Regions from separate parts of the Homo sapiens genome. Here all the other regions are linked to region 3. The links come from fine-mapping of genetic effects on gene expression. A gene starts in region 3. Each other region holds a variant in brackets. All regions are shown on one strand. Distances are between the middles of the regions.

What was found.
Region 1: its variant is fine-mapped to the expression of AMN1-AS1 in whole blood (TOPMed, PIP above 0.99).
Region 2: its variant is fine-mapped to the expression of AMN1-AS1 in whole blood (INTERVAL, PIP above 0.99).

Annotation. Positions count from the first base shown.
Region 1 is chr12:31,644,147-31,652,321 of GRCh38, forward strand. LOC124902913 (a long non-coding RNA gene) reads right to left here and starts at 7,912. Exons shown (of 2, transcript XR_007063269.1): 1 at 7,590-7,912. It also overlaps a transcript of ETFBKMT not described here. The variant A/C (reference allele first, on the strand shown) is at 3,714.
Region 2 is chr12:31,664,577-31,672,758 of GRCh38, forward strand. ETFBKMT (electron transfer flavoprotein subunit beta lysine methyltransferase) reads left to right here. Exons shown (of 4, transcript NM_001135863.2): 3 at 1,511-1,641; 4 at 3,071-8,182. The coding sequence ends at 3,414. AMN1 (antagonist of mitotic exit network 1 homolog) reads right to left here. Exons shown (of 7, transcript NM_001113402.2): 7 at 6,566-7,801. The coding sequence ends at 7,728. Among named protein-coding and RNA genes, the nearest start is that of ETFBKMT, 9.0 kb to the left of the region's middle. The variant C/A (reference allele first, on the strand shown) is at 3,954.
Region 3 is chr12:31,725,850-31,734,031 of GRCh38, forward strand. It overlaps AMN1-AS1 (AMN1 antisense RNA 1), which reads left to right and starts at 3,416. Exons shown (of 1, transcript NR_198987.1): 1 at 3,416-5,355. AMN1 (antagonist of mitotic exit network 1 homolog) reads right to left here and starts at 3,172. Exons shown (of 7, transcript NM_001113402.2): 1 at 3,122-3,172. The coding sequence starts at 3,159. It overlaps LOC105369722 (a long non-coding RNA gene), which reads left to right. Exons shown (of 3, transcript XR_931497.3): 3 at 2,808-3,041. RefSeq lists a silencer at 2,961-3,040, enhancers at 3,091-3,440, 3,453-4,085, 3,481-3,680, 7,371-8,182 and a cis regulatory region at 7,110-7,337.

The DNA of each region.
Region 1 (8,175 bases), 82 kb before region 3:
GGATTACAGGTGCACTCCACCACACCCGGCTAATTTTTGTATTTTTTTGTAGAGTTGGGGTTTCGCTATGTTGCCCAGGCTAGCCTCAAACTCCTGGGCTCAAGCAATCCTCCCGCCTCGGCTTCCCAAACTGCTGAGATTATAGGCGTGCACCACCATGCCCAGCCCAGAGCCATACATGTTGGTTTAACCAAAAGAGCTGAAGGGTGGCTTGGAGCACTGGCATAAATGATGTCCCTTTAGCTGTCAGGGCTGACCGGGAGGGAAACAACCCTGCAACCCGTAATGGTCCTTGGCTTGATCAAAGAGCACCTTGTACTTGAGGTACCCTCTTTGTCCTGGTCCCATCCATTCACCAGCAGCCTTCACACATCTGTCCTAAAACCTTAGATTTTACCTATCTGTTGCTGCACATACAGCGGTGCCAGGGGACACTGTCGACCACGCCCGGTTAATTTTTTGTATTTTTAGTAGAGATGGGGTTTCATCATGTTGGCCAGGCTGTTCTCAAACTCCTGACCCCAGGTGATCCACCTCCTTCAGCCTCCCAAAGTGTTCGGATTACAGGCGTGAGACACCACGCCCGGGCTCAAATGTTCATCTCTTTCAGAAATACCCTCAGAGGAACACCCAGAGGAATGTTTGACTAACTGTCTGAACACATTGCAACCCAGTCAAGCTGACACATAGAATTAACCCTCACAGAACCAATAAGGAAGTGGAAGAAAGTGCTTCTTTTGCTACAGGATGAGGTGGGAGCAGGAATTGTGAGAGGCCCCCTGGCCACCATCTCCAGTGTATTGGGTTCAGCTCATTTCCTCCCCAGCACTGCTACTAATGTTCAAGGCATTATTTGTTGAAGCCAGGTGCCGTCTAAGCAGGCTGTCGAGGGAGAGCAATTTTTTTTTTGAGACAGGATCTCTTTCTGTTGCCCAGGCTGGAGTGCAGTGACATGATCTTGGCTCACCGCAGCCTCGACCTCCCAAGTAGCTGGAACCACAAGTGATCCTCAGGTAATCAGGTGATTCTTTCACCTCAGCCTCTTGAGTAGCTGGGACCACAAGTGTGTGCCACCACACCTGGCTAATTTTCTTTCTTTTTAATAGAGATAGGGTCACCCTATGTGGCCCAGGCTGGTCTCAAACTCCTGGGCTCAAGTGATCCTCTTGCCTTAGGATCCCGAAGTGCTGGACTACAGGCGTGAGCCACTGTGGCTGGCCTTTTTTTTTTTTTTTTTTTTTTTTAAGGAGAGCAATTTTGGTAACTAGAGACTGCTGGGAAAGAGAATGTGGGCGATCAGAGAGTGCAAGGGACATAGAAGGAAGTCTTTAGAACTTGGATGGGAGTCCAAGTTCTGCCACTTCCAGGCCTTTGTGCATTCAGCCAGTTACTTAAGCTGTTTGGCCTCAGTGTCCATATATTGCATTAACACCGGGAATAACAATTTTTACCTTACAAGATTGTTAAGGGAATTAAATGAGATCATGTGAATAAAGAGCCTGCCATAGAGTTGCACTCAATAAACACTATTTTACTTCCCCCTGAATTCCCTACCTGTACTTTTGGCACATGAAAAAATAATTAGGTAGAAATAGGCTGGAGTCCAGCAGGGGAAGACAAACTAATCTTTCCTGGACTACATTTTTACATGGATAAAAATTTTTGCCACTGCAACTCTAAGCAGCACTCAGTATCTTTGAGATATTAGTGATGTTTTTCTCTGATGTTCTTTTAGCTCCTGGGGTCACTGTGGGCTAAGAGAGGTGGAGACAGGCTTTGTGCAACGCTGCCTTGTCCCCCTGCTCAGAGGCAGATGTGACTTAATAGGAAGAATCCTAGAGGCCTTCAGATGCTGTAGAGAAGATTCATGTTTGATGAGAGAGAGCCTGGATGACATGAAAGTTGTTGTTTTTTTCCAGAGAAAAGGAAAGAGACATAACATTCCCCCTACCCGCCCAAGCATCAGCTTCCTCTTCTGAACTGGTTGCTGTGGAGATTAAAAACTTTGTACACAGCACATTGCACACAGGCGATACGCGGTTGTTAGAATCTCATTACCATTGACAATGGCTAATTATAGATGTGAACATCTAAATGTGTCTGAAGGGGACAGAGAAGTTTGGTAAGGATAACTTACAATCTTTCCATCTTTTGTTTTGTTTTGTTTTGTTTTGTTGTGTTTTAGAGAGGGTCTTGCAATGTCGCCCAGGCTGGAGTGCAGTGGCATGATCTTGGCTCACTGCAGCCTCCACCTCCCGGGTTCAAATAATTTTCAAATCTCTGCCTCCAAAGTAGCTGGGATTACAGGCACATGACACCACGCCCAGCTCATTTTTGTATTTTTAGTAGAGATGGGGTTTCACCATGTTGGCCAGGCTGGTCTTGACCTCCTGATGTCACGTGGTCTGCCCACCCTGTCCTCCCAAAGTGCTGGGATTACAGGCGTGAGCCACTTCGCCCAGCCTTTTTTTGTTTCGTTTTGTTTCTTAGAGACAGCATCTTGCTCTGTCCTTCAAGCTAAAGTGCAGTGGCTTGAACATGGCTACTGCAGCATCAACCTCCTGGGCTCAGGTGATCCTCCTGCCTCAGCCTCCTGAGTAGCTGGGATGACAGGTGTGCACCACCATGCTCAGCTAGTTCTTACAATTTTTGTAGAGACCAGGTTTCATTATGTTGCCCAGGCTGGAATTTTCGTATTTTTTGTCACAAAGCCTCGCTATGTTGCCCAGGCTGGTTTCAAACTCCTGGCTTCAAACAGTCCTCACACCTTAGCCTCCCTAAGGATCTTGTGCTGAGATTACAGGCATGATCCTCCATCTTTTTATATTGTGTAATTATAATGCAGAGTAGTTTGAGCTTGGTGATGAGAAAGCTTTCTTTTCGCCTTCCTGCCACTCATTGTTTGTATACTTTATTTTCAAAGGCCATTAACATGTCGACAGCCACTGAGCTGCTGTTTTTGTTTTATTGTTCCCTTGACCACACACCAACCAACCATGACTCCCAATTAATATTCTTAATGGAATCCAAGCCTCTAAGCCTCACAGTCCAGGCCCTCCACCAGCCTGCCTCACCCTATCCTCATTTCATCTCCCGCAACCTGGCTCCGGTGAGTGCTCTTCGTAGTCAGACTGGGCTGTTTATTTTCTGCAATGAACTTGTAAATCCCTGCCTTTGGCTCGTGCTTGAAATAGCTTCCTCTTTCTCATTACCGAGTCTACGTCCTGTGTTTAAGTGCAGCTCTGGAACCAGACGACATGTGTGTCATCCCAACTCTACTGCCAGCTATTTATGAGCCCTCAGGCAAGTTACTGAACCTTCCTGTGACTTCACTTCTTTACCTCTAAAACAGAGGTCATAATAGTATACCTACATCCTATGCTTATTTTGAAGCTTAAAGAGGTAATTTAGGGGCTGGGCGCGTGTAATCCCAGCACTTTGTGGGACTGAGGCGGGTGGATCACCTGAGGTCAGGAGTTCGAGATCAGCCTGGCCAACATGGCAAAACCCCGTCTCTACTAAAAATACAAAAATTAGCCAGGTGTGGTGGCAGGTGCCTGTAATCCCAGCTACTCGGGAAGCTGGGACAGGAGAATCACGTGAACCCGGGAGGCGAAGGTTGCAGTGAGCCAAGATCACGCCACTGCACTCCAGCCTTGGTGACAGAGGGAGACTCCATCTCAAAACAAAACCAAAGAAAACAAACAAACAAA[A/C]AAAAAACAAGTGTTGATAAGAATGTGGAGAAATTGGAACCTTCATAAATTGCTGGTGAGAATGTAAAATTGTGCAGTCACTTTGGAAGACAGTCTGGCAATTCCTAAATAATTTGAGCATAGAGTTACTATATCACCCAGCACTTCCATTCCTAGGTATATACCCAAGTGAATTGAAAGCATATGTCTCCACATAAATGTGTACATTAATGTTTATAGTGGCATTATTCATAATAGCCAGAAAGTGGAAACCACCTTAATGTTTATCACAGATGAATGGAGAAACACAATATAGTACTGAATATTCACATAATGGAATATTATTTAGCCACAAAAGGAATGTAGTACAATTGTCCTTCAGTATCCACAGGGGATTCGTTTCAGGACCCCTGAGGATATCAAAATCCATGGATGCTTGAGTTCCTTATATAAAATGATGTAGTATTTGCATAATTACTTTAAATCATCTGTAGATTATAATGTTGAATATGATGTAAATAGTTTTTTTTTTTTTTTTTTTGAGATGGAGTCTCGCTCTTTTGCCCAGGCTGGAGTGCAATGGCACCATCTCAGTTGACTGCAACCTCCGCCTCCCAGGTTCAAGCGATTCTCCTGCCTCAGCCTCCTGAGTAGCCGGGATTATAGGCATGGACCACCATGCCCAGCTAATTTTTATATTTTTAGTAGAGATGGGTTTCTTTTTTTTTTTTTTTTTTTTTTTTGAGACGGAGTCTCGCTGTCTCCCAGGCTGGAGTTCAGTGGCGCAATCTCGGCTCACTGCAAGCTCTGCCTCCCGGGTTCTAGCCATTCTCCTGCCTCAGCCTCCCAGGTAGCTGGGGCTACAGGGGCCCACCACCACGCCTGGCTAAGTTTTTGTATTTTTAGTAGAGACAGGGTTTCACCATGTTAGCCAGGATGGTCTCGATCTCCTGACCTTGTGATCTGCCCACCTTGGCCTCCCAAAGTGCTGGGATTACAGGCGTGAGCCACCGCGCCCAGCCCTGTGACGGGGTTTCACCATGTTGGTCAGGCTGGTCCTGAACTCCTGACCTTGTGATCCGCCTGCCTCAGCCTCCCAAAGTGCTGGGATTACAGGCATGAGCCACCACGCCCGACCAATAGTTGTATTTTTTTTGGAGACGGAGTCTCGCTTTGTCACCTAGGCTGGAGTGCAGTGGCGTGCAATTGGCTCATGCCAACCTCTGCCTCAGCCTCCCAAGTAGCTGGGATTACAGGCGCCCACCACCATGCCGGGCTAATGTTTTGTATTTTAGTAGAGACGGGGTTTCACCGTGTTGCCCAGGCTGGAGATAGTTGTTATATTTTTAGGAAATAATGACAAGAAAAAAAAGTCTATACATGCTGTTCAGTACAGATACAAATTTTTTTCCCCAATTTTTTCAATCTGCGGTTGGTTGAATCTACGGATGTGAAACCTACAGATACAGAGGTCTGACTGTACTTATTCATTCTACAACATGAATGAAGAAAACATTATGCTCAATGAAAGAGTCAGTCACAAAGGACTGCATATGATTCCACTCACAGGCATCCCTCCTTTTACTGTGCTTGGCTTTATTGTGCCTCACAGATATTGTGAATTTTACAAATTGAACGTTTGTGGTACCCCTGTGTCGGGCTAGTCTATTGGTGCCATTTTTTTTTCAAACAGAGTGTGCTTACTTCGTGTTTCTGTGTCACATTTTGGTAATCCTCACAGTATTTAAATTTTTTTCATTAATATTAAAAGTAATGGCCAAAACAACAATTACTTTTGCACCAACCTAATATGATTATCTGTTCTGGTGATCTGTGATCATAGATCTTTGATGTTTCTATTGTAATTGTTTTGGAGCACCCATGAAAGATGGTGAACTTAATGGATAAATGTGTGTGTTCTTTTCCTTTTCTTTTTTTTTTTTGAGACAGAATCTCTCTCCGTAGCGAAGTACAATGGCATGATCTCAGCTTACTGCAACCTCCACCTCCCAAGTTCAAGCAATTCTCCTGCCTCAGCCCCCTGAGTAGCTGGGATTACAGGCACGTACCACCACACCCAGCTAATTTATGTATTTTTAGTAGAGGTGGGGTTTTGCCATATTGGCCAGGTTGGTCTCGAACTCCTGGCCTCAAGTGATCCACCTGCCTCCCAAAGTGCTGGGATTACAGGCATGAGCCACTGCACTCAGCCCTGCTGTCAGAGGCCTTTGTACCAGAGCAACTCCATCTCGAATAGGGGCTGGTTAACCTGAGGCTGAAACCTGCTGGGCTACATTTCCAGTAAGTTAAGGTATTCTTAGTCACAGAATGAGATAGGAGGTCGCTGTAAAGACTTTGCTGATCAAACAGGTTGCAGTAAGGAAGCCAACCAAAACCCACCAAAACCAAGATGGCAACGAGAGTGATCTCCAGTCGTCCTCACTGCTACACTCCCACCAGTGCCATGACAGTTTACAAATGCTGTGGCAACATCAGGAAGTTACCCTATATAGTCTCAAAGGGGAGGCATAAATAATCCACCCGTTGTTTAGCATATATCATCAAGAAATAACCATAAAAAATGGGCAACAAGCAACCCTTGGGGCTGCTCTGTCTTTGGAGTAGCCATTCTTTTATTTCTTTACTTTCTTAAACTTGCTTTCACTTTATGGACTTGCCCTGATTTCTTTCTTGCGTGAGATCCAAGAACCCTCTCTTGGGATCTGAATCGTGATCCCTTTCCAGTAACACTAAGAGGGTTTTGAGTGGAAGATTGAAATGACCTGACCTTTTTTTTTTTTTTTAAAGAATCACTCTGGCTTTTCTGTTGAGAAGAGACCAAAGGAAGCAAGGAGGGATAAGGAGGTTAGTTCAAAGACCTTTGCAATGAAAGAGTTAAGGACGTGCCACCCCCAAATATGCCAGTTTGGCATACTGATTATTTCAAGCTGAAGGTACTTGAGAGACTGTCATTGCAGGAAGAGCTAGCTCACTGTTTCACAGTGGACAGGGTCTATGCAAACCTGCGGCCAAGGAAGCTGAGAGGTGGAAGAAAGAGGCTGACACATCCAGTTTCTTAGGAAGAAACGTTTACTAGGGACTTAGAACAGAAGCCATGTCTGTATCTCAGGAAGCAGTGAGACAAGATGGTGGATCCCCGCACCATTACCCCTCAAACCCAGGGCTTATATACCCCAGGAGAGGAGTGATTCAGAAGGGACGTGGAGAACAACTTAAGTATGATAACATCAAGGCCACTTGACCTAAGGGCAGGATTTACAGTCAGTACGTGCTCTTACACAAGGAACAATAGATAAACTGGAAGTCTTACAAGACTTCCTGGAACTGGCGTTAATCAGAAACCAGCATGGATTAGCATCCAGGATGGAGTTGCTTTGCCCTCCCCACTGACGTGTCCATTCCTACCTTTAGGAAGCCATAAAAATTCCTTTGAGAAAGATGCCTTCCCTTTTTTTTTTTTTCTTTTTTGAGACGGAGTCTTGCTCTGTCGTCCAGGCTGGAGTGCAGTGGCGCAATCTCGGCTCACTGCAACCTCCACCTCCCGGGTTGCAGTGAGGCAACCCGGGTTCAAGCAATTCTCTAGCCTCAGCCTCCCGAATAGCAGGGATTACAGGTGCGTGCCACCACGCATGGCTAATTTTTGTATTTTTAGTAGAGACGGGGTTTTACCACGTTGGCCAGGCTGGTCTGGAACTCCTGACCTCAGGTGTGATCTAGCCGCCTCCGCCTCCCAAAGTGCTGAGATTACAGACATGGGCCACCGCGCCCGGCCGATGCCTTCCTTTAGTAGAAAGAGAAAATAACCCTTATCTCCAGAGACTGGGAATTGATGCTACAATGGACCTATACAGATAAACTTACTAAACGAACACTTACCTTTCACTAGCTTTGCACTTCACTGATACAGGAGTTTAGAAGAAATCACTTAGGCAGATAGTAGGAGTATGGGAATCCTCAGTAAGGCTTTTCTTTTTCATGAAAAGCAGCCCCAAATCATTTTCTAACAAAGAGCATTCTGTAAAGCCGAGCTGCAGACACAGACAAGCAAGCTGGGAGCTTGCACGAGTGAACGCAGGGAGGAACTTCGGAGTACACATGTTCAAATTGGAGGCTCCATCTTCCCTTCCCTTTGTCAGCCACGTGTACTGTAAGGAGCAGACAAGATGGTGTTGATCAACTAGAAAGTCTATTTCCATAATAAGATTAGGGTGGGGTAACCAGGCTTCCCCTGCGCACAGTGTAAACGTCATACCTGATCAAACCAATCTATGAGCCCTATGTAAATCAGACACCGTCTCCTCAGACCTGACTATAAACTTCGGCGCATCCACTGCCGGCTGGTCCTTTCCACTCGCAGATCCATTTCTCTATAGAGAAAGCTGTTTCTCTTTCCCTTCTCTTCTGCCTATTAAACCTCTGCTCCTACACTCCTTGTGTGTGTCAGTGTCCTAAATTTTCCTGG
Region 2 (8,182 bases), 61 kb before region 3:
TTTTTAGGAGGCACAGTATTTATACATTTCTTTTTCTTTCTTTTTTTTTTTTTTTTTGAGATGGAGTTTTGCTCTTGTTGCCCAGGCTGGAGTGCAATGGCACAATCTTGGCAGACTGCAGCCTTCCCCTCCCGGGTTCAAACGATTCTCTGCCTCAGCCTCCCGAGTAGCTGGGATTACAGGCATGTACCACCACGCCTGGCTAATTTTGTATTTTTAGTAGAGACGGGGTTTCACCCTGTTGGCCAGGCTGGTCTCGAACTCCTGACCTCAGGTGATCCACCCACCTTGCCTCCTAAAGTGCTGGGATTACAGGCGTGAGCCACCACACCTGGCCATTTATACATTTCTTTTCTTTCTTTCTTTTTTTTTTTTTTTGAGACAGAGTCTTACTCTGTCACCCAGGCTGGAGTGCAATGGCTTGATCTCTACTCACTGCAGCCTCTGCCTCCTGGGTTCAAGCAATTCTCCTGCCTCAGCCTCCCGAGTAGCTGGGATTGCAGGTGCCCGCCACCACACCTGGCTAATTTTTGTATTTTTAGTAGAGATGGGATTTCACCATGTTGGCCAGACTGGTCTCGAACTCCTGACCTCAGGTGATCCACCTGCTCAGCCTCCCAAAGTGCTGGGATTACAGGCAGGAGCCACTGTGCCCAGCCTACAACTTTTTTTTGAAAAAAATTGACTTGAATAGCATAATCAGTCAGTTGTGTGGTACTGTGCTTCACACCTGCTGAAGAGAAAGACCAAATGACTAGGTCCTTTCTTCTGCCACCTCTGCCCAGCTCTGGAGATGGACTTTTTGTGTCACTCTAGTCAGACCAAACTTGCCAAGGTTGGACCAAGTTCTGCTACTTTTCACTATTTCTTTTGTCCAGTCAACCTAAAGACATCTCTTTTCTTTCTTTTCCTTTTCTTTTCTTTTTTCTTTTTTTGCATACCTCTTATTTGCTGAGACCAGCTCGGCTGGGGAGACCCTAACCCAGTGACACTAGAGGAATTAAAGATACACACACAGAAATGTAGAGGTGTGAAGTGGGAAATCAGGCGTCTCACAGCCTTCAGACCTGAGAGCCCCGAACAGAGATTTACCCACATGTTTATTAACAGCAAGCCAGTCATTAGCATTGTTTCTATAGATATTAGATTAACTAAAAGTATCCCTTATGGGAAATGAAGGGATGGGCTGAAATAAAGGGATGGGTTGGGTTAGTTATCTGCAGCAGGAGCATGTCCTTAAGGCACAGATCGCCCATGCTATTGTTTGTGGTTTAAGAACGCCTTTAAGCAGTTCTCTGCCCTGGGCAGGCCAGGTGTTCCTTGCCCTCATTCCGGTAAACCCACAGCCTTCCAGCGTGGGTGTTATGGCCATCATGAACATGTCACAGTGCTGCAGAGATTTTGTTTATAGCCAGTTTTGGGGCCAGTTTATGGCCAGATTTTGGGGGGCCTGTTCCCAACATTTATTTTTCCTCATCTCTCTGAGACATGTTTCTCCTTTTTAATTTAGGTATCTTTTGGATAATCCTGATGTTGTCAGAGGAAAATCTGTATTAGATCTTGGGAGTGGATGTGGAGCTACAGCTATTGCTGCTAAGATGAGTGGGGCATCAAGGATCTTGGCCAATGACATAGACCCTAGTAAGGATTCATATTTTAAAATATTTAAGGCTCATCTTTTTTTTTTCTCTGGGATAAATATGTACACATGCTCAGTGTGGTAGCTTATCGTTATATGTATTTTGTGATTGGACATTGTGAATCTCTGTGCACTGGGACATTATCTGTAGGAATCCCCTGAGGTCTGAGTAGATGGTGCATTTTTCCCAAGAGGATTTGTGTCTGCCAGACATCCAGAGTAAGCACTTATGTTAATTTATGGGCTAGGAATTTCCTGAAATATGTAAATAGTGTTTATTTGACCCCAAACCCAAGTGAGTATTGACCTGTCTTTGAGGGTTATTTTTATTCCATTAGAACCCAGGCTGAGACAGGTAAGTTTTTATTTGATCTGATTTTCTTCTGGTCTACCCTTTCACTGAGAATATAGTCCTTGAAAACCTTTATTTTATTTTATTTATTTATTTATTTTGAGACAGAGTCTCCCTCTGTCACCCAGGCTGGAGTGCAGTAGCACAATCTCAGCTCACTGCAAGCTCCGCCTCCCGGGTTCACACCATTCTCCTGCCTCAGCCTCCTGAGTAGCTGGGACTATAGGTGCCTGCCACCATGCCTGGCTAATTTTTTTTTTTTTGCATTTTTAGTAGAGATGGGGTTTCACCGTGTTATTCAGGATGGTCTCAATCTCCTGACCTCGTGATCTGCCCGTCTTGGCCTCCCAAAGTGCTAGGATTACAGGCATGAGCCACCGCGCCTGGCTGAAAACCTTTATTTTATAAAGGAGTCTCAGTTCTTTTTTTTTCTTTTTTTTTTTTTGATACAGAGTCTCACTCTATTGCCCAGGCTGGAGTGCAGTGGCACGGTCTTGGCTCACTGCAACCTCCACCTCGTGGGTTCAAGTGATTCTCCTGCCTCAGCCTCCCGAGTAGCTGGGATTACAGGCATGCACCACCATGCCCAGCTAATTTTTGTATTTTTATTAGAGACAGGGTTTGACCATGTTGGCCAGGCTGGTCTTGAACTCCTGACCTCAGGTGATCCACCCGCCTCGGCCTCCCAAAGTACTGGGATTATAGGCGTGAGCCACTGCGCCCAGCCAAGGGGTCTCAGTTCTAATTTATTGCCATGCTCAATCAAGCCCAAGTCTCGTTTCCCTGTCCACAGTAAAAAAACAAAATCTTTTGGTTAATGAAATCAGCAAATATTCCTAAAAGTCCCAGCATTTCTAGGTGTTTTGAATTGTTTGTTTTCAGGATATCCAGTCATGTATTTGGAAATTGTGGTATAGCTTATATTGGGATAACCTTTATACTTCTCTACTTTAAAAAACAACTTTCATCAAAAAGGAAGAAAAATATATTGTTAGCAGATCTTCTAAATTATTTAATCAACATGGAATTATAACAGCCTAGCATATACCAATTCATTTTGTGCTTTTTTTTTTTTTAAGTTGCAGGAATGGCTATTACACTAAATTGTGAATTGAACAGACTGAATCCTTTTCCTATTTTAATCCAAAACATTTTGAATTTGGAACAAGATAAGTGGGACCTTGTTGTTCTTGGCGATATGTTTTATGATGAAGACCTTGCAGATAGTCTTCATCAGTGGCTGAAGAAGTGCTTCTGGACCTATAGAACTCGAGTACTGATTGGTGACCCTGGGCGGCCCCAGTTCAGTGGACACAGCATTCAGCATCACCTGCACAAAGTGGTAGAATATTCACTTTTGGAGTCTACTAGGCAGGAAAACAGTGGACTGACAACAAGCACAGTGTGGGGTTTTCAGCCTTGAGTTGTCAAAGTGCTTCCAAGTATGAATATAGTAATGTTTGGATCTGACTCTAAAAGTTTTCTCTATAGGAGATACTCTCCAGTTTAATGAATGTAATTCTTGTTAAATGGAAAATCTTGTTTTTAAAATATGAAGGTTTAGAGTTTTGTTTACTTTTGTCATGTAACTGGTTCTGTATTTCTATGCATGCCAATTATACACATCTCTATCTGCATTTTTTTTTCTATTTTAACCGCTGAAGGAATATGATTATACAATGCCATACTCAATGGTGGCAGCATTTAATTTAAGTAATGGAGAAGAATTAAACATTGTAGCTGGATCTGTTTCTGTAGTCGAGGACAACTGTGATGTAACTTTGAATTAAACAAACAAAACAAAACAGAAGAAGACTATATATATATTTTTTCTTTTTTTAGAGACAGTCTCACTTTGCTCCCAGGCTGGAATGCAGTGGCTATTCAGAGGCTTAATCATTGGGCACTGCAGCCTTGAACTCTGGGCTTTTTTTTTTTTTTGAGATGGAGTCTCAGCTCTGT[C/A]GTCCAGGCTGGAGTGCAGTGACTCATGTCTCGGCTCACTGTAGCCTCCACCTCCCCCAATCAAGCGATTGTCCTGTCTCAGCCTCCAGAGTAGCTGGGATTTTAGGTGTGCACCACCATGCCTGGCTAATTTTTGTATTTTTAGTAGAGACGGGGTTTTGCCATGTTGGCCAGGCCGGTCTCAAACTCCTGACCTCAGGTGATCCACCCGCCTTGGCCTCCCAAAGTGCTAGGATTACAGGTGTGAGCCACCACGCCAGCCTGACGATGTTTTTTACTTCTATCACTTCCTTTTGATTTTTTCTTATAGCTTCTATCTCTGCTTACGTCACCCATCATTCTTGCGTGTTGTATGCTTTTCGCATTAGAGCCCTTTGCATGTTAATCAGTTATTTTAAATTTATGATCTGGTAATTCTAAAATGTCTGCCATAACTGAGTCTGGTTCTGATGCTTGTTTTCTTTTCAGACTGTTTTTTTGTCTTTTAGCATGCCTTGTAATTTTTTGTTGATAGCTAGACATGATGTATTGCATAAATAAACAAGTAAACTAAGGTAGCATGAGGTTTTAAAATCTGGGTAGGGCTACTGTTTGCTGTAGAGTAGATATTACAGGCTAAATTTTCCTCTAGTGTCCTGGCTATTGTCTCCTCTGTTATCTTTGAGTTTCCCTAGAGATTCCTTCTTATATAGAGTCTGAAGCTTGCAGTTTTTTTCACCTGTAATTCCCTGTTATTATACAGTAGCCTAACTGATGTGATAAGGTATGGGAGAAGGTATGTTCTATAGTCCTGTGATTAAGTCTCAGTCAGTTAAGTCAGCCTGTGCCCCTGCTGTGACCTTCACAAGTGCTTTCAGCTTTTCTTTTGTCACTTTGGTGAGACAGGAAGGCTAGAGGCAGCTGGAGTTGGGTGCTTCCTTTCCCCCAGGTCAACGAGGCTCTGGTAAAATAGTTTCCCTTGAGAACTGGCTTTTGTTAAGGAGAACTGAACACTTGGGCATATTTCAAAATGGTTACTTTCCCTATCCTCATACCAGAAGAGGGGATTTTTCTCTGATCCTCACCCTGAGAACCTGGTAGGTATCCTGGAGGTAAAACTATGAAAGTGTGGTGTCTCCCCTAGGAGTGGGCCCCCTGGAGTTTGTTTGTTTTAATTTAACAAAGTTTAATTGAGCAAAGAACAATCTGTGAATTGGGCAGCTCCCAAAAGCAGAATAGGTTCAGAGTGACTGCAGGGTTGCCACACCTGGTTAGATAACGTTTATGGACAGATTCCTAGAGCTTTTGATTCTTTTTTTTTTTTTTTTGAGGCAGAGTTTCACTCTTATTGCCCAGGCTGGAGTGCAATGGCGTGATCTTGGCTCACTGCAACCTCCACCTCCTGGGTTAAAGTGATTCTCCTGCCTCAGCCTCCTGAGTAGCTGGGATTACAGGTATACACCACCAAACCCAGCTGGGATTACAGGCATGCACCACCATGCCCAGCTAATTTTTGTATTTTTAGTAAAGACAGGGCTTCGCCATGTTGGCCAGGCTGGTCTCGAACTCCTGACCTCAGGTGATCCACCTGCCTCAGCCTCCCCAAGTGCTGGGATTACACGTGTGAGCCACTGTGCCAGGCTGGAGCTTTTGATTCTTAAGTCCATCCACATGGAGCCTCCAGCAACTCAGGAATTACAGCATAAATGTTCCTATTGGTACTGGCTCCAGCAACAGGCTTCTGCTCCCTGTAAGCTATGGTTCTTTGTATTTGCGTTTCTAATTTGTGAGGCATTCTCTCTTTAACCTTAATTCTCTAATGGATCTAAGTGTTGTTGACTTTTCAGTTTATTGAGCTTTTTTCTTATTGTGAGGATGGGAATGATGACTTCCAATCTCTTTATATTAGAAAATATAAATCAGACTAGAGACTGGAAATTTTTGTTGTTGTTGTTGGGTGTTTTGTTTTGTTTGTTTTTAGACAGGTCTTGCTCTCTCATCCAGGCTGGAGTTCAGCAATGCGACCGTGCTCACTGCAGCCTCGACTTTCTAGGCTCAGGTAATCCTCCCACTTCAGCCTCCTTAGTAGCTAGGACTGTAGGCATGCACCACCATGATGCCTGGCTAGTTTTTTTATTTTGTATTTTTTGTAGACATGGAGTCTTGCTACATTGGCCAGGCTGGGTATTACTGGGTATTTCTTTCTTTCCTCCTTTATTTCTTTCCATATTTACTTATTCAATGAATATTTGAGTGCTTATTATATACCAGGCACTGTTCTAGGCACTGGGGATATGGGGATACAGCAATGAAAAAAAAAGATAAATACTTTGTCCTTATGAAATTTGTATTCTAGAGTAGGGAGACATAATGAACAAATGAAAACAGGCATCAGATGGTGATAGGTAGTAAGGAGAAAAAGAAGTAAGGGTAATAGGGAATACTGGGTACTGGATGGGGTACAGATATTTTAAACAGAGTGGTGAGAAATAGTTAATACAGCTAGCAACATAAAAAAGGAGAAATATCAAACTGCAAACTGTTTTAGGAAGATAAATCCTTCATAGACCCAAAGAAGCTCACAATTTAGATGTCGAAACTAGTTTCTGCAAAAAGGGGAAAATGTGATTGACTTGGTTAAATATTCAGTATTAAATTTTATTGAATTTGTCTTTAGAAAAATTTCATAGTTAGAACAGGCCTTACCCATTTTGCACATATATACATATGCACCACCTTTGCAGTGGCAACATATATATCCACACTATAAACATACCACATTTATAAATCTTGTAAGGACAAGAAATGGAGTTGAATAAGTACCCCCCAACATATACAAGAAAGTTAGCATACTTACCCCGTTTTTCACTACATCAGAGGCAAAATAAGAAATCTTTTAAGAAAATCTCAAGACTGGCTCATGGCAAAATGAATATGCTAAATTTGGGGGTTGGTTTAAGCGTGGTATGTGTCAGGTAATTTTGTGATTACCAAAAAGTTTTCACTTGAAAACTAAGACCTTTGCTGTTTATTTCACAATGTGAAATCAATAAACCTGAGGATACAAGTCTCTGTAGTGATATTCTGTATTTACTCATTTTTACACATTTTTGAATGCAATTTTGCTAAGGAAGGAAAGCTTACAGATGCATAAAATGTAACTGGGAAGAGTAGCCATAAAAATCAATGAATGGATGTGGCTGGGCAAGAGCCTCTGTAATACTAATACGCTGAATGGCTAATAAGTCACTTCATTTCGGTGAAACAAATACCTAAATTCTTTGAAGAATTAACAGGCTTGATGTTCAGGTCTGCTTTTGGCAAATGGGCATTTAAATACTCCAAGAAGGTAAGAGCCAGAAAATAGGAAGGTAACTATGCTTTTAGAAATATGTTTACTTAGATTCTCCCAAGGTTTATACTTACAGGTAAACTTAGAACAATAGCTCAAATACCTACATAGGAGAAGGAAATCTCAAGGGAAAACAGTTAATTTTAAAGTTATTTAAGAAACAGAATCCAACACCATAGATCAGAGTTCATGCTAGGATTATCATTTCAAAAATAATGACTCATCCAACAGATATAGAATAATAGCACTTTAAAGATGTTTAAGAGTAAAGCACAAACCATGTATATACCAAGACTTAGCTAATTCTCTGAGAGTTATAACTTAAGACAATAAAATAATTAAAAATAGTGTTAACATTAAGTAGAATGCAAATCTCTATAGATGGTTTCCTGGGAAAGTAGTTTTGATAAGCTTTCCTAGCATTGATCATCTTCAAAAAAGCATCAATAAACAGTCCATGTCACTTGCTTTAGTTTGTTTGGGCCTACTAATTGCTCCAACACTTCTCGGGAATGATCTATAAAAGAAAACAATGACAATATATTAATTGACAATAAAAAATGTTTAATGTTTCCTCATGTCTAACTGGAGGTGATGTTAATTATTATACAGTTATTTAAAGGATTAAAGGAGGTGATCTATAAAGCACAATATACAACTAACTCACTAATAATTAATTAATGGTAGCCCTCACTATTATTAGGTGTAGTGCACCTATCATGGTATTACTTGTTTAAAAAAAAAAAACAGGCATTTGTTGTTTTCTCTGTAATTTCATCATAATTCCACCAACCAGAGTAATGGTCTAATTTCACCATTAACCTGTGTTAATGGTTAATAACTTTTTTCAGGATCTTAGCCGGAAATAGATGATTCACTAAAGTGGGGTGACTGAACA
Region 3 (8,182 bases):
CATGCCCAGTTAATTTTTTTTGTATTTTTGGTAGAGACAGGGTTTCACCATGTTGGCTAGGCTGGTCTCGAACTCCTGACCTCAAGTGATTCACCTGCCTCGGCCTCCCAAAGTGTTGGGATTACAGGCATGAGCCACTGCACCCAGCCTAATCCTTGATCTTTCTTTCAGATTCAAAATTATATTCTAACTGCCTGCTTGATATTTCTACTGGATATTCTGATTCATTTTCCCCGTAAGACACTTCTTCCTCCATAATAGTCTAATCACCATTCTACCTGTCAACGAAGCTAAAACTAAAAGAGTAATTTCTTTTTTTTTTTTTTGGGGGGACGGAGTTTCGCTCTTGTTGCCCAAACTGGAGTGCAATGGTGCAAGCTCGGCTCACCGCAACCTCTGCCTCCCAGGTTCAAGCGATTCTCCCACCTCAGCCTCCCAAGGAGCTGGGATTACAGGCATGCACCACCACGGCCGGCTAATTTTGTATTTTTAGTAGAGACAGGGTTTCTCCATGTTGGTCAGACTAGTCTCGAACTCCCCACCTCAGGTGATCCACCTGCCTCAGCCTTCCAAAGTGCTGGGGTTACAGGCGTGAGCCACGGCCCCCAACTAAAAGAGTAATTTCTAATTCTTCTCTTTCCTCGGTCCCTCTATTCAAAACTATTCATGTCCCAGATCCAAAGGATTCTCTAAAGCAGTGTTAAAGTGCTGGTCAGTGAGGAGATAAGGAGTTTATGCAAGAACATAAACCAAGCCCTGTTTCCTTCATGGAGAAAGCCTCATCAGCTGGACTAAATAATGTGCTTAGTGACACACTTAATTACTAGTCTGGCTCAAGCTTCTTACTTTGTTACAAACCAGAAATAGCTTGCTGACCAACTGCCAGTCTCAGACTGTACCTTGTCCCAGAAGGGTACAAAATTAGGTTCTAAGGGCAAATATGGACCTTTACCTAGGGACCACACTCTAGCATGACAATGAAGATCATGTAGTCATCCCTGTCTTAGCCCCAAGTTCTGAAGAATTTTTCTTAACATTGTTAGTCTGTTTCCTCTTTTTTTCACTAAGCACTGTGTTTTAAAATTCTATCCAAATGAATCTACTCTTTGCTTTTCTTTCATTTATTTATCTATTTATTTATTTATTTTGAGACCAGGTTATGAGATTGGCTAACTTTTTATTTTTGGTAGAGACATGGTTTTGCCATGTTGCCTAGACTGGTCTCCAACTCCTGGCCTCAAGCAATCCACCCTCCTCAGGGTCCCAAAATGTTGGGATTACAGGTGTGAGCCACCATGCCTGGCCTACCCTTTGCTTTTCTAACAGCTGCATAATATTCCATGGTAACTCTCCCATTCCAGCTCCATGCCACCAGAAATAATTCTGCAAAGAACATCTTCATGTGTCTCCTGGTTTGGGCTCTTCACCTCTTAAGATTTTGTAACAGTCTTCTAAGTGTCTCCCTATTTCCAACTTCTGCCTAATTCAAATCTCTCTCTGCTCACAGTACAGTTCTAAAACCTTTGATAGCTCCCCATGACTGAAAGAGGAAATGCTCTTACTTCATCCTGGTCCCTAAGATTCTATTCCCAATGACCTGGCTTTATGTCTCACTACTGTGCTATTCATATTGTATCTTCCATTCACATTGGAGCGCTACTTTCTGGTCTTCTCTCATATTTCTACCTTTCCTGCCTGTCAAACCTTTACTCTTTTTATTTCACTCTCTACGATACATTTCCTCCCATTTGCAACCGTCAGATACTACCAATGTTCAAAAATAACCCCCTTGACAAAGCTTTCTCCTATTCTTTTCCTTATTAGAAATTTCAAAAGTTTGTTACTCTCCCGCTTGTGATATTATTCTACATATATTATAGTTATTTATTTTATTTTTTTGAGACAGTCTCGCTCTGTCGCCTAGCAGCCTAGGCGTGCAGTGGCGCGATCTCAGCTCACTGCAACCTCTGCCTCCTGGGTTGAGGCGATTCTCCTGCCTCAGCCTCCAGAGTAGCTGGGACTACCGGCGCCACTACTACTCCTGGCTAATTTTTGTATTTTTAGTACATGCCGCGGTTTTGCCGTGCTGGCTAGGCTGGTCTCCAACTCTCCTGATCTCAAGTGCCTCGGCCTCCCAAAGTGCTGGGATTACAGGCGTGAACCACCGTGCCCAGATAATTTTTGTATCTTTAGTAGAGGCGGGGTTTCGCCACGTTGCCCAGGCTGGTCTCGAACTCCTGAGCTCAAGCAGTTCTCCCACCTCGGCCTCCCAAGTTTAATGTAAAATATCAGATGCCATTGTTTCAGAAAGCCTTCAGTAGATTAAGGAGATTGTTCTCCTTATCCTTAAGATGTCTATTTTTTACATGGCAATATTAACGGACTGAAAGCTCCTGGAGAGACGCAATTGCCCTTGTAACTTCCATTTCCGTACAATTTCTGGTAGGAAATAATAATAACAATAACACTTAGTGGTGTTTATTATTTGCTGGGCATCCTTATAAGGGTTTTACATGTTTTAAATTTATCCCTCAGGACAACTCCATGTGATGGGTGCTATTATCACAAAAATTTTATAGATAAAGAACCTAGGCACAGGGAGAGGTTACGTTACCGGTCCATGGTCACGTGGCTGGTGAATGGCAGAGCCGGGGGCTGAACCCAGCAATCTCAGCCAGGGATCCGTGGTCTTAACCACTTTGTTACCTTTATCCCAGGGTCTGTCAATGTTTATTCCAGTTACAGGGGTGGAATTCTGCTAGAAGCTTTTGAGAACCTCATCTAGCGTTGTGTTTTTTTCTACCAAGGCTTTTAGCTGCTAAGAGAGAGGCCACTGCCAGTAACAGCCGGGGCGCCGAGCTGTCAAGGCTGACGGAGGAATGGACGCTCATCGCGCAGCGGAGTGTTGGAGGGGCAAGCCCGCCAAGAGACCCACTTTGCACAACTGTCCTCAGCCAGGAAACGACAGATCAGGAACCCAGGGACAGAAACACACGCGGGGCCTCTTCAGAGGTCGGCGGGGGGGGTGGGAAAGGGGCGGGGAGGAAGAGCAGCGCAGGGCCTGGCCGTTTGGAGGAGGTGCTGGGGCGGCGCGAAGGGAGGCGGGACAGGGTAGACTCACAGATCCAGGAGCTGACTGACCCGCCGTGGGCGAGGCATCGCTGCAGCGTCTGAAGCCTCTTCCGCGGTCCCAGGGCCTCCAGAACCCAGCCAGGGACCGTCCGCCAACTCCCGCCCACCGCGCGACGCGTAGGTTTTTGTGACGTCACACGGATTTTTCCGGTGACCGGGGCGTGGCCACGCTTCGGACTCCACAAGGAAAGAAGAGAGCCCCCTTTGGGGCGGAGCCACTGAGGGCTGCGCGGAAGAGGCTGGGTGTGATAAACTATAAAGAGGCCCTAAACTCGGATGCAACGTGACGGGAGTTGTAGTTCTTTCACCTGGCGGGCGTCTGCTCCGGTTCAGCTGCAGGAGGTTTCTTGGGAGTTCAGCCCAGCGCGCAGCCCCGCCGCGACGCCGCGAGCCGAGAACTCTCCTGGGGCGAAGGGAGCGCTGAGAAGTCGCTACTCTTACTAAAAGGATGCGTTGGATGCTGGGCCATACCCTTGGCGATGCACACTGGAGACCCGCTCGGATACGGACTCCATTAACATCAAACGGAGCGTGTTAGAGGATCCGAGTTTACTGAGCACTTTCTAGGAAGCGTGCACTGAGCTACGTGCTTTCTAGGCCTTAGTTCAATACTTAACCATATTCATTATAATCCGGTGAAATCGTAATTATTTAGCCTTATTTTACAGATGAGGACACTGCGTACCAACAAGTAACCTCACTAAGAATTTCGTCATGGAGGAGAAGGGAACCTGTATTCAAATTAGGAAGGATCCTGAAGAAAGGGCACCTTTAGGTGGAATTTTATCTTTGGTTCTGCTGCAGAGTACTTGCTGCTTTTTAGTGCTCCCTCCACCCCCCTCATTCTTCCTTGTAGATTAGTCTGTTGTTTGTATGCTGAGTTCCTTTTTTAAGCTCCTTGAAAGTTGGAACCCACTGCTGTTGCCTGTTCAGGATGCTACACATTGAATCAACATGGATTTATTAAGCGCTGAACGAGGGCTAGGGATCGTGCTGGGTGCTGAGGATTGAGTGGCGAACACTTGGGTCAGACAAGTAAAAGGGCAATTAGAATAACTGTTAAATGCTTAGATGGGGTTAGTTCTATGGAAGCACCCATGGGGGTGGGATACAGATCAGAGAGAAAAGGGTGGTCTGCAAATAGTTTGGGATGGCTACACTGGAGAGTGATCAAGAGTGAGTGTAGGGCAGGGGTTGGCCGACTTTTTCCATAAAGTGCTCTGAAAGTTGCAGATTCCAGGAGAAGTAACTATTGTCAGACCCAGACAAATTGGAGCCTAGAGACCAGAAAGGAAGGAAACTCATGCTTGTATGTCTGAGATAAGAACTGTCTCAAGGCCAGACGCGGTGGCTCACACCTGTAATCCTAGTACTTTGGGAGGCCGAGGCGGGCGGATCACGAGGTCAGGAGTTTGAGACCAGCCTGGCCAACGTGGTGAAATTCCCGTCTCTACTAAAAATACAAAAAAAAAAAAAAAAAACTGGGTGTGGTGGCGGGCGCCTGTAATCCCAGCTACTGAGGAGGCTGAGGCAGGAGAATCGCTTGAACTCGGAGGAGGTTATAGTGAGCCGAGATCGTGCCACTGCACTCCAGCCTGGGCGACAGAGCAAGACTCCGTCTCAAAAAAAAAAAAAAAGAAAGAACGAACTGCCTCAAGGACTTTAAAAAATAAACCAAAAAACCCACAATTTCTTCACATCTTTCATGCATTTAATGTTTTGCACAACTTGCTTGTTTTGCAAATATGCGCACATTTCTATGACAAGATTTATTGCTAAATATTCTTTAAAACTGCAGCAGTTCAGATAAGATACTGTCGAAAGGACGTTTGGCCCAGCAGCAGGACCTCCACCAATGAACGGACTCCAATTCTTGATTTGAGCCTTGGGAACCAATCAACTTAGTTTCCAAGAGTTTATGTGAACTTCCCTCCTTTACCAGTAAAATCTTCCCCCTATTCTTCCCTTCTCCAGACCCGTGGCTTGCCATAGCTGTACATCTTGGATTATAATTCTTTTTGTTCACTCCCAAAGAAACTCAGTATCTTTGGAGAATTCTTTCTTTGTTGTCTTTTAGCTTCCCAGAGCCAAACAAGAAATATTTTAGGTTTTGTGGGTCATGCTGGCTTGGTCACAGCTATTCAACTTGTATCTTAAAATTAGCCATAGACAGTATGAATGGGTGGGTCTCTGTTCCAATAAAACCTTATCCTAAACACTGAAGTTTGAATTTTATGTAATTTTCAACTGTCATGAAATACTCATCTTTTGATCTTTTTCAGCCACTGAAAAATGTAAAAGCCATCCTTAAGTTGCAAGCTATACAAAAACAGACAGTGGACTGGATTTGACCCTTGAGCCATTTGTCCATGTGCCCTCACCTGATCTAGAAAGCTAAAATGCACATGCCTCACGCCTGTAATCCCAGCACTTTGGGAGGCCAAGGTGGGCGGATCAGCTGAGGTTAGGAGTTCGAGACCAGCCTGGGCAATATGGAGAAACTCTACTAAAAGTACAAAAAAATTAGCTGGGCGTGGTGGCAGGTGCCTGTAATCCCAGCTACTCAGGAGGCTGAGGCAGGAGAATTGCTTGAACCCAGGAGGCGGAGGTTGCACTGAGCCGAGATCACACCACTGTACTCCAGCCTGGGCAACAAGAGTGAGACTCTACCTCAAAAAAAACAAAGAAATTACGAATTTTAAGATGGTGATAGCAGAGCACTAAACCCAGAGTGGGGCCCGTGTGACTGCACATTTTGCCCACCCATGAAGCCAGCCCTGGGTGCGTCCAACTTCAGGATTCCCCCCCCCAAAAATCAGTTCAGGAACCCTATGTCAAAATAAAAATCAAAGACAAATATGAGCACAGAGAGACATTTTTACTTGCAGTTCAAGAAAATCAGACTTTCAGAGAGTGGCTCGCTAAATAGAATAGAGGAATTTATAGCTCAGATGAAATGGCAGATATTTATAGCTCAGATATGGCAGTTCATTCCAATTGGATAAGAACAAGATGTTCCTGTTTTGTGGTAAGGAAAACAGGATGTTCTTGTTTTTGTGGCTTATCTCTGGAGGCAAAGCTTTTAGGATTTCCCGTTAGTCAAGGCTTTTAGGAGGTTCCCGCTATTCATGGTTTATCTTTGAATGCAAAGTTATTGGGAATGAAAGTCTTTTCTAGTGTATGGTAAGTGATTTGTAGGCAGGGTTAGGCTAAGGGCAAGATATTTTCCTTTTCTCCTCTCTGTTTGCTGTGCCCACTTTAATATAGTTTCCTCTAGCTCAGAATCTCCTCCACTTCCTACCATAGCTACCATACAAAGTAAACGTTATCATAGATTGTTGCTGTGGGTTTGTTTTACTTTACTCCAGGCTGGAGTGCAGTGGCGCAATCTCGGCTCACTGCAACCTCTGCCTCTCGGATTCAAGCAATTCTCCCGCCTCAGCCTCCCAAGTAGCTGGGATTACAGGCATGTGCCACCATGCCAGGCTAATTTTTTTTTTTTTGTATTTTTAGTAGAGACGAGGTTTCACCATATTGGCTAGGCTGGTGTCGAACTCCTGACCTTGTGATCCACCTACCTCGACCTCCCAAAGTGCTGGGATTACAGGCGTGAGCCACCGTACCCGGCCTCTGGGTTTGTTTTATAAAAATAATTAACAAAATTACTTTTCTTAAATCATGCTGTTAATTCATAATGTAATATATGAGCTGTATGTGGACCCATGTTTTAAAATACAATAAATATATATAAAACAAGTATATCTTATTTATATGAATGTGTGCTTTCACAAGAACAGAACGGAGCTAAGCCAAGTGAGCCCCTACTTTATTATCCTACCATGTGTAGGTTATTTTCAAATAGGATTGCTCTTAACTCTCCAAGTGTCCTTTGAGAAAATAACACGTCTTTTTATTTAGTTTCTTTTCATAGCTTGTTTTATAATATCACACTCCAAATTGGAAATAACAGTGCCCATGCTCATGGATTGTTATACATTGTTGAAATTTCCCATTGGCTAGAAACACTTGCTTTGTTTCTAGGTTAGAGATCTGTGACTTTCAAATTCTCAGGAGTCTGAGTCATACAATGGATGACTCAGGATCCAAGCAGGTTAAGAGTTGGGCAAGTTCAAACAGGAGAAGCAAGGAGATGTTAATAAAGGAGCTGTTCCCAAAGGTGTGGACAGAGTTAGGGCAGAGCAAGGGTAAAGGTAGTTCAATACCATAGCGCTACAATAGCAGGAAGACCTTACCTCTTCTGGTCCTGGAGGGCAAAACCAAAACCTTGCCAGAGTGACCACAGGTGAAGCCACCTGAAAGGAACTGTGGCCTTTGAATTTGTAACCGCCTAAGGGGTTCACCTTGCCCCCTGCCTAGAAAGAACTGATTCATCAAGACGGGGGAATTACAATAGAGAAAGAGTAATTCACACAGAGCCAGCTGTGCGGGAGACAGTTTTATTATTACTCAAATCAGTCTCCCCAAGCATTTGGGGAGCAGAGTTTTTTTTTGTTTGTGTTTTTTTTTCAGAGTCTTGCTCTGTCACCCAGGCTGGAGTGCAGTGGCGCTGTCTTGGCTCACTGCAACCTCTGCCTCCTGGGTTCAAGTGATTCTCCTGCCTCAGCCTACCAAGTAGCTGAGATTACAGGCATGTGCCACCACGCCCGGCTAATTTTGTATTTTTAATAGAGACGGGGTTTCACTATGTTGGTCAGGCTGGTCTCGAACTCCTGACCTCGGGTGATCCACCCACCTCAACCTCCAAAAGTGCTGGGATTACAGGTGCGAGTCACCACGCCCAGCCAGGAGCAGAATCTTTAAGGATAAATTGGTGGGTTGGGGGAAGCCAGTGACCCGGGAGTGCTGATTGGTCAGGACGGAAATGAAATCATAGGGAGTTGAAGCTGTCTTCTTGTGCTGAGTCACTTCCTGGGTGGGAGCCACAAGATCAGATTAGCCAGTTTATCCATCTGGGTGGTGCCAGCTGATCCGGCAATTGCAGGGTCTGGAAAATATCTCAAGCACTGAGATATTTGAAGAAAATCTTGAA